Homo sapiens: one gene and its partner. The protein of the gene in region 2 interacts with the protein of the main gene of each other region in a pairwise test. Each region holds a gene or a part of one and is shown on either strand. Other genes may lie near its edges.

Region 1 (3,747 bases), on a different chromosome or scaffold from region 2:
CAAACTCTCTGCCTGCAAAAAGCATACTGTTTCAAAGCAAGGTTTGTGATACAACCTGGGCTCTTCAGAGACAGGGGCTATGTGATGCTGAACAATCTGGGGCCTAGACTGTGTGTTCCTGACCACGTCGCACTTTGTGAACACTCCCATATTTCCAAATCTTTCCAACTCCACTGTGCTTTTACTCTGAGATACCTGCTGCTCCTTCTGAGTTCCTAGAATGCTCACATGCATGCCTTCAAGTCTTAGCCATAAGGGCCAACACATTTTATGACCTGCTTCCTAATAATACCAGGCATAATTAATGGCTGCTTCACTCAGAGGCCATGAGTTAGGCAAACTCTTCAGGTAATCACCCGCACATGCCTTGAAATACCAAGCCTTGCCTTCGAACCATCTCAGCTGATTTAAGTCCTGGTTATCTACCTATTGTTAACTTACATCACCCATGCTTTCTTGTCACAGTCAGTTCAGCATATTACCAAGTCCTTGTTTTACTTAGCAGTATGACACAGAAGGAAAATCCAATTCTACAAGCTGAACTCCAAGGCAAACATAATAAGCGTGTTTGTTTTTAAAAAGATTTCCAACCCTAGTCATGATCTTCTGAGACAACCTTCATGTACTTTCCATGCAATCTTTCTGAATATCCCAATGCAACCAAACACTTTGGTTCTACATCTTAACCCCACTCTGGCCTTAGCAGATTGGATACCAAAGGCTCATTAGTGTGTGTGTCTAAAATAGAGACTGATAATACCCATTTAGTTGTACAAAACAGAAGGAAACCATGAGCCTTCTGATTGTAGAGAATGAACCATTTCTGCCATCAGCATCTTGGGCCTCTGCAGCTTGAGCCTAGGCACCTGTCCTATCTGGGGTCAGAACACATTATTCAGTTAGTTTGACATTCCCTCCCCACCTGTTCAGGGTCCTGCAAGCACACTTAAGCTCTATAGTATCCACTGGGTACAGCGACAGGCTTGGGGAATGCCAGGAGGCAGTACAGTTAGCACCAAATTACAATTCTGCAGGGCACGATACGCCTTCAGGACAGTCCCACCTACACAGGTCTCACACTGAGGGGACAGTGTGTGGCGTCTTCAAACATCTCCCCAGGGGAACCTGCCTTGTCTATGGTGTGATTGGCTGACTCCCATGACAAAACTCACCCTGTCTGCAGCCAAAGGGTGAGAGAGACAGAGGCGCTATCTAGGGGTCTGTAAAAGAGGAAGCAGGGAGAGCAGGCAACATGATCGGTGTTGAGAAACAAAGTTGGATACTGCCTAACCACTGACCGCAGAAACGTAGTCAGATGCAAACATGTCACATTTTATATGGAAGAGATTTTAGGAGAGAGGGCAGTTTTAGGCAGTGCTCGAAACTGAGGACTTCTGCCATTTGAGCTGTTACCAGGAGATGTGAGGAGAGGTGAGGGGGCGAAACTGGCCTATAAATGACAGTCAGCTTTGGGGGATTCCTGGTCCCTCAAGAGAGCTTGTCTAAGCCCTTCGGGTAACTTATCCCTTTGCACGTCCTTCAAATAAGGAGCTGTCACTTTCCTCCCCAGCTCCGGTGTCCCCTCCGTCCATGCCATTTGCCCAACAAGGCCTCAGAGCAAACTCCCTCTTCCACTTACTATCCGGCTCTCAAACCAGGGTTCCTGAGCACCCAAGGTGTCCCTTAAGAAGCAGTAGGAGGGTGGGGGCAAGAGCGTGGGTTCAGTCCATGTGGCGCTGGGCAGATCGCCTGCCAGCTCCCAGGCGGTTTCTCGTCTGCGCAGTGGGGTGGTGAGGGTCTGCACAGCGCTCCGGGGTGGTCCGCCTCTCCCCTCCCCCAGGACAACTCCCGGCCGGGCCGGGAGCGCTCACCGTCGAAACGCTTCCTCCAGCAGGGTGCAGGAGGGGCCCGCCGTGGAATTGGGGCTGTGGCTGATGTAGAAGTTCTCCGGGGCGAGATGCAGCAGGTTCGGGGTCATCTTCACCAAGAGCGGCAGGGGCCACAGCGCCGGCCCCGGCTTGGCCGAGACGCTCGGGGCCCGAGCCGCCTCCGCCACCTGCACCACCAGCGCCACCTGAGTCAGCAGCGCCAACATCGCCGCCAGCAGTGTCGCCAACAGCAGCGCCAGCAGCATGGGCGGCCGGGGCAGCCCCAGCCCGCACAGCTCCATGGCCGCTCGGCTGCTTTCCGCCCGGTCTGCCGAGCCGGAGCCTCGGGACCCGACTTCCCGCCCGGCCCGGATCAGAGGAAGCGCGGCCGCGGGTGAGTCACCGAGTCAGATGACTGCGCGCGCCCGCCCCCGACTCCGCCTCCAGGCCCCGGGAGCGTCCTCGCCCAGCCCGCCCTGTCCAGGTCACCTCGAGAATTTCCTCCAGGGGTGCCCTCGGGTAGGAGCAGAGCCCAGACAGCAACCTCAAACACGGGATGGCTAAAGTAAGAAAAATGCCCGGTGCTGGCCGTACGTGGTGGCTCACGCCTGTAGCCCCAGCACTTTGGGAGGCCGAGGCGGGCGGATCACCTGAGGTCAGGAGTTCAAGACCAGCCTGGCCAAATTGGTGAAACCCCGACTCTACAAAAATACAAAAATTAGCCGAGCATGATGGCGGGTGCCTGTAGTCCCAGCTACTCGGGAGGCTGAGGCAGGAGAATCTCTTGAACCCGGGAGGCGGAGGTTGCAGTGAGCCGAGATCGCACCACTGCACTCCAGCCTGGGTAACAGAGCAAGACTCCGTCTCAAAAAAAAAAAAAAAAAAAAAGAAAAGAAAAAGAAAACGGCCCAGTGCACAGGCTCGGGACGCCAGGCCGACACCGGGTCGCCGCTCACGCTGTCAACACGGGCGCTCTCCTGTGGATCCCTGGCTTCGGTGAAGCTGGAGAAGCCAAGCTTGAGGAGCACCTTTCTCCTCTCAGCCCAACCACCAGATAACCGAGATGAGAGCTGAGTTTATTTGCTCCTAAGTCTAGGCTTTTCTGTAACAGCACTTCAGCTGTGGTCAATAAAGCCTTCCTATCAGAACTCCCTGGGGCAGAGCATGCCCAAGGAATCCTGAGAGAGAACATCTTGGCTCATCTGTGTGGGTCCCGATATAAAGGATCCCAACTGACAAGTTTGATTTCATAACCCATCCCTAAGGAAGAGCCAGTGAAGTCACATGACGAACACGGACTGGAGATGCCAAAGGGAGAAGAGGTGTTCTCTTACCAGAAGGAGAAAACGCTAGGCAGACCAAAACCACAGATCTGCTATATAAGTATTCTGAAAATGAGGGTGGAAGAGCTTTAAGGAAAGACTTCAAAGAAATGTAATGATTAGGCCAGGTGCGGCGGCTCACGCCTGAAATCCCAGCACTTTGGAAGGCGAAGGAGGGCGGATCACAAGTTCAGGAGTTCGAGACCAGCCTGGCCACCAAAGTGAAACCCCGTCTCTATTAAAAATACAAAAATTAGTTGGGCGTGGTGGCGGGCGCCTGTAATCCCAGCTACTCAGGAGCCTGAGGCAGGAGAATCGCTTGAAACCGGAAGGTGGAAGTTTTAGTGAGCTGAGATCACACCTCTGCACTCCAGCCTGGGCAACAAGAACAAGACTCCATCTTAAAAAAAAAAAAAAAAGAAAGAAAAGAAATGTAATGATTATTGGGCCTCAGAAAATGAGACCCCAAAGTGTGGCACTTTGGCATGTTGAATACTTGGAACTGAAGAAAAGAGAGTCAGAAGATCTTTCTGACCTTCTCCTGCCTTTCTTTCTCC
Region 2 (3,747 bases):
CCACCTCCCGGGTTCAACTGATTCTCCTGCCTCAGCCTCCCAAGTATCTGGGATTACAGGCACCCGCCACCATGCCCAGCTAATTTTTTTTTTTTTTTTTTTGAGACGGAGTCTCTCTCTTTTGCTCAGGCTGGACTGCAGTGGCGCGATCTTGGCTCACTGCTACCTCCACCTCCCGGGTTCACGCCATTCTCCTGCCTCAGCCTCCCGAGTAGCTGGGACTACAGGCGCCCGCCACCGTGCCCGGCTAATTTTTTGTATTTTTAGTAGAGATGGGGTTTCACCATGTTAGCCAGGATGGTCTCAATCTCCTGACCTCGTGATCTGCCCGCCTTGGCCTCCCAAAGTGCTGGGATTACAGGCGTGAGCCACCGCACCCGGCCGCCCAGCTAATTTTTTGCATTTTTAGTAGAGACAGGATTTCACCATGTTGGCCAGGCTGGTCTCGAACTCCTGACCTCAGGTGATCCACCCGCCTTGGCCTCCCAAGGTGCTGGGATTACAGGTGTGAGCCACTGCACCAGGTCCGTCCAATCTTTTATTTCATTCTCATGCAGGCTTTAGGTTCTCTCAATTCAGGTGCAATTTCACACAACAAAGACATTTACATAACTACTGTTCCCAAGGAAACTGTTGTAAGAGACCAAAGTCGTTTATAGGCAGACCTCCATCAGCTGAGGGTTTATATAAGCCCTTTACTTATAAAATTTTAATCTTAGATGATCATAAAATTTTCATCCAGTATTCAAAACAGTGCTCTTTATTGACTCAAGAAAACATTTTTACTATGAGCCAAGCACTCTGCTAATGTGGTGATAGCCATTGGCATTGGTAGCATCACTGAGGAGTAATATCTGTGTGGGCAGTTAGGGAGTGCTTGTCAGGATAAGCTCTGGCTGCTGGTGGTGAGCCATTTAAGAGTTGAAAGTGGTGTCAACTGATGGGAGGGAACAAAAGAGTTGAAAGTGGGAGAGTGACCATGTAAACATTTTATTTTAAATGGGTCACTTTGAAGTTGAGTGGAAAGTAAATGGATTTAAAGGGGCAAAGATTGGAGGCAGTGATTGCTGTTAGAAATTTCCAGTGGCCTAAGTAAGAGAGAGTGTGTTCTTTTTCCTAATTTAGGGAAGAGAAGAAGAGAGGGTAGATAATAATGAAGGTTCAGCATTACTAGTTGTGTGCCTGCCTTTATAAGAATTATTTCATTTACTCTTTCCAAAACCTTTATAAGGTACAGATTGAGTATCCTTAATCCAAAAATCCAAAATCAGAAATGCTCCAAAATGCAAAACTTTTTGAGAACTGACATAATATTCAAAGGAAACACTCATTGGAACATTTCTTACTTCAGATTTTTGGGTTAGAGAGCTCATCTAATATGTATTTGCAAATATACCAAAAACTCAACAAAATCCAAAACACTTATGGTCCCAAGCATTTTGGATAAGAGAGATATACAATCTGTAGATACTTTAATATCTGCTTTTTATAGATGATGCTGAGGCAATGAGAGATTAAATTATTTGCCTAAGGTCACATAGTTAGCAAGTGACAGAACTGGGCCTACCTCTAAGCACTCACTGAAATTATACACTCTCCTGTCCTCTCTCATGTGGAGAGCAGTGTACAGAGTGAGATTAGGAAGTGGGGAGTTACTGATGTTGGGGCCAAGGAAGCAAGAAGTGAAGGATGCCCATCAGGTTTCTGGAGAAGAAGTCTAGGTAGATGGTGATGCTGTCTATTGAAGACCACAAGAGGAGGAAGGATAGGTTGTTAGTTGCTATCTGTACCTAGGGTTTGTCAATGTTGAGCTTTTCCAGTTAGAACAAATTGTGTTCTAAAGGAATCTTGGTTTTACTTTTACTAAAACTTTATAGTTGACTTAAGATTTCTGCATTTTACTATATGTAAATCGTACCTTAATAAAACAGTGAAAAAACCTGTGGGCCCTGTGTCCATTTAAAAATTAAAGATTTCCTAAGTTTCTATAATTCAATGTATTGTCATCAGTATTGCCAAAGAATTAAGTTTATCTTTTGAGCTGGGCACGGTGGCTCACACCTGTAATGCAAGGACTTTGGGAGGCCGAGGCAGGAGGAGCCCTTGAATCCAGGAGTTTGAGACTAGCCTGGGTGACATAGTGAGACCCTATCCCTACAAAAAAATTAGCTGGGCACAGTGACACGAGACTGTAGTCCCACCTTCTCAGGAGGCTGAGGTGGGAGGATCCCTTCAGCCCAGGAGTTTCAGCAGTGAGCTGTGATTGTGCCACTGTACTTCAGCCTGGGTAATACAGCAAGACCCCATCTCTCTCTTTTTTTTTTTTAAGTGTTAAATTTATCCTTTTGAATTCTTTGTTTCACAGTAATAGAATCTCATCCAGATAATGCATTAGAGGATCTACGACTAGATAAGCCATTTCCTGAACTGAGAGAACATTTTCAGTCCTATGATTTGGATCATATGGAAAAAAAGGTTGGTAGTGTGTGTGACCTTACATTTACAGATAGACTTAAAACATTTTTTTAACCTAAGGTTTTTGAATTACACTAAAGTGAGAAAATCCTATAAACTTCCATATTCCTGTCATCCCGATTACCCAATAACAGTATTTTACCTTGTTTTCAACATATTAATTTTTCTCCAAAATTAAAAAACTTTTTTACTGAAGAAAAGTACATATACTGAACATCTGTGTAATCACTACCCAGGTCAAGAAATTGGACATTAACCTATTCCAGGTGGGGAGATGGGGATGGTTAATGGGTACCAAAAAAAAATTAGAAAGAATAAATAAGATTTACTCCTTGAAAGCACAACAAGGTGACTATAGTTAGTAATAACAACTCAGTTATACATTTTAAAATAATTAAAAGAGTTTAATTGGATTATTTGTAACATAAAGGATAAACGCTTGAGGGGATAAATGCTATACAGATACCCCATTCTCCATGATGTGCTTATTTCACATTGCATGCCTGTATCAAAGCATGTACCCCATAAATATATACACCTAAGTACCCACAAAAATTGAAAGTAAAAAATTTTAAAACAAAAAACAGAAATAAAAAAATTCCAAGAAGTTCTCTTTATGGACTTTTTCTAAACAAATAGAAATAATGACATAACACTATAAGGCGTATATGTATTTTTTCCCACTTCCATATTAATTAACATGCAGTTGCTTATTTGGTTCATCAGAAAACAGAAAAGATCCTCCTTTCTTACTTAGGATTGGTGTCTGAAATTGAGATTTGAGCTGTGTTTTTGGGTGGCAGTCTCTGAGACTGTTTTGCTGGTATAATGGGGACAATCATAGTATATATGTGACATACTAGGTATCTGCCTCTAGAAAAATTTGTAAAGCAGTTTTTATTAACTCAGTTCATTTTCGTCTATTCACTACTCTGCATATATTAGGAGATCATAAATATTGTTGAATTTGTTGAAAACGAGATGGTACAGTGAAGAATTCATAATACTGATATTTTCTTTTATTTGTCTCTCATTTTTAGGACCACAGTCATACTCCATGGATTGTGATCATAGCTAAATATTTAGCACAGTGGTATAGTGAAGTATGTCCTTTTTTAAAAAAAATTTCATATGCAACTGTATTTTCAGTTTCTTACAAAGGATTTCCTTGATGGGGAATGGGAGATTAATTTTTTTTCCTTATGGAGTTGTATGGTAGGGCAAATGGATGCTTTTAAATTTAAATCTAGCAGTTCCTCTTTTGATCCTGAT

Evidence for each region. Proteins that work in one complex are often made in the same cells at the same time.
Region 1: the proteins of NAE1 (region 2) and HEXB interact in binary tests that used the Homo sapiens proteins (3 or more experiments, as listed by UniProt).

The regions. Positions count from the first base shown.
Region 1 is NC_000005.10:74,683,684-74,687,430, reverse strand, and holds the start of HEXB (beta-hexosaminidase subunit beta isoform 1 preproprotein), read right to left. Parts: upstream 2,199-3,747; 5' UTR 2,171-2,198; coding exon 1,872-2,170; intron 1-1,871. UniProt on the Homo sapiens protein: Hydrolyzes the non-reducing end N-acetyl-D-hexosamine and/or sulfated N-acetyl-D-hexosamine of glycoconjugates, such as the oligosaccharide moieties from proteins and neutral glycolipids, or from certain mucopolysaccharides.
Region 2 is NC_000016.10:66,817,256-66,821,002, reverse strand, and holds part of NAE1 (NEDD8-activating enzyme E1 regulatory subunit), read left to right. Parts: intron 1-2,365; coding exon 2,366-2,475; intron 2,476-3,515; coding exon 3,516-3,578; intron 3,579-3,747. UniProt on the Homo sapiens protein: Regulatory subunit of the dimeric UBA3-NAE1 E1 enzyme. E1 activates NEDD8 by first adenylating its C-terminal glycine residue with ATP, thereafter linking this residue to the side chain of the catalytic cysteine, yielding a NEDD8-UBA3 thioester and free AMP.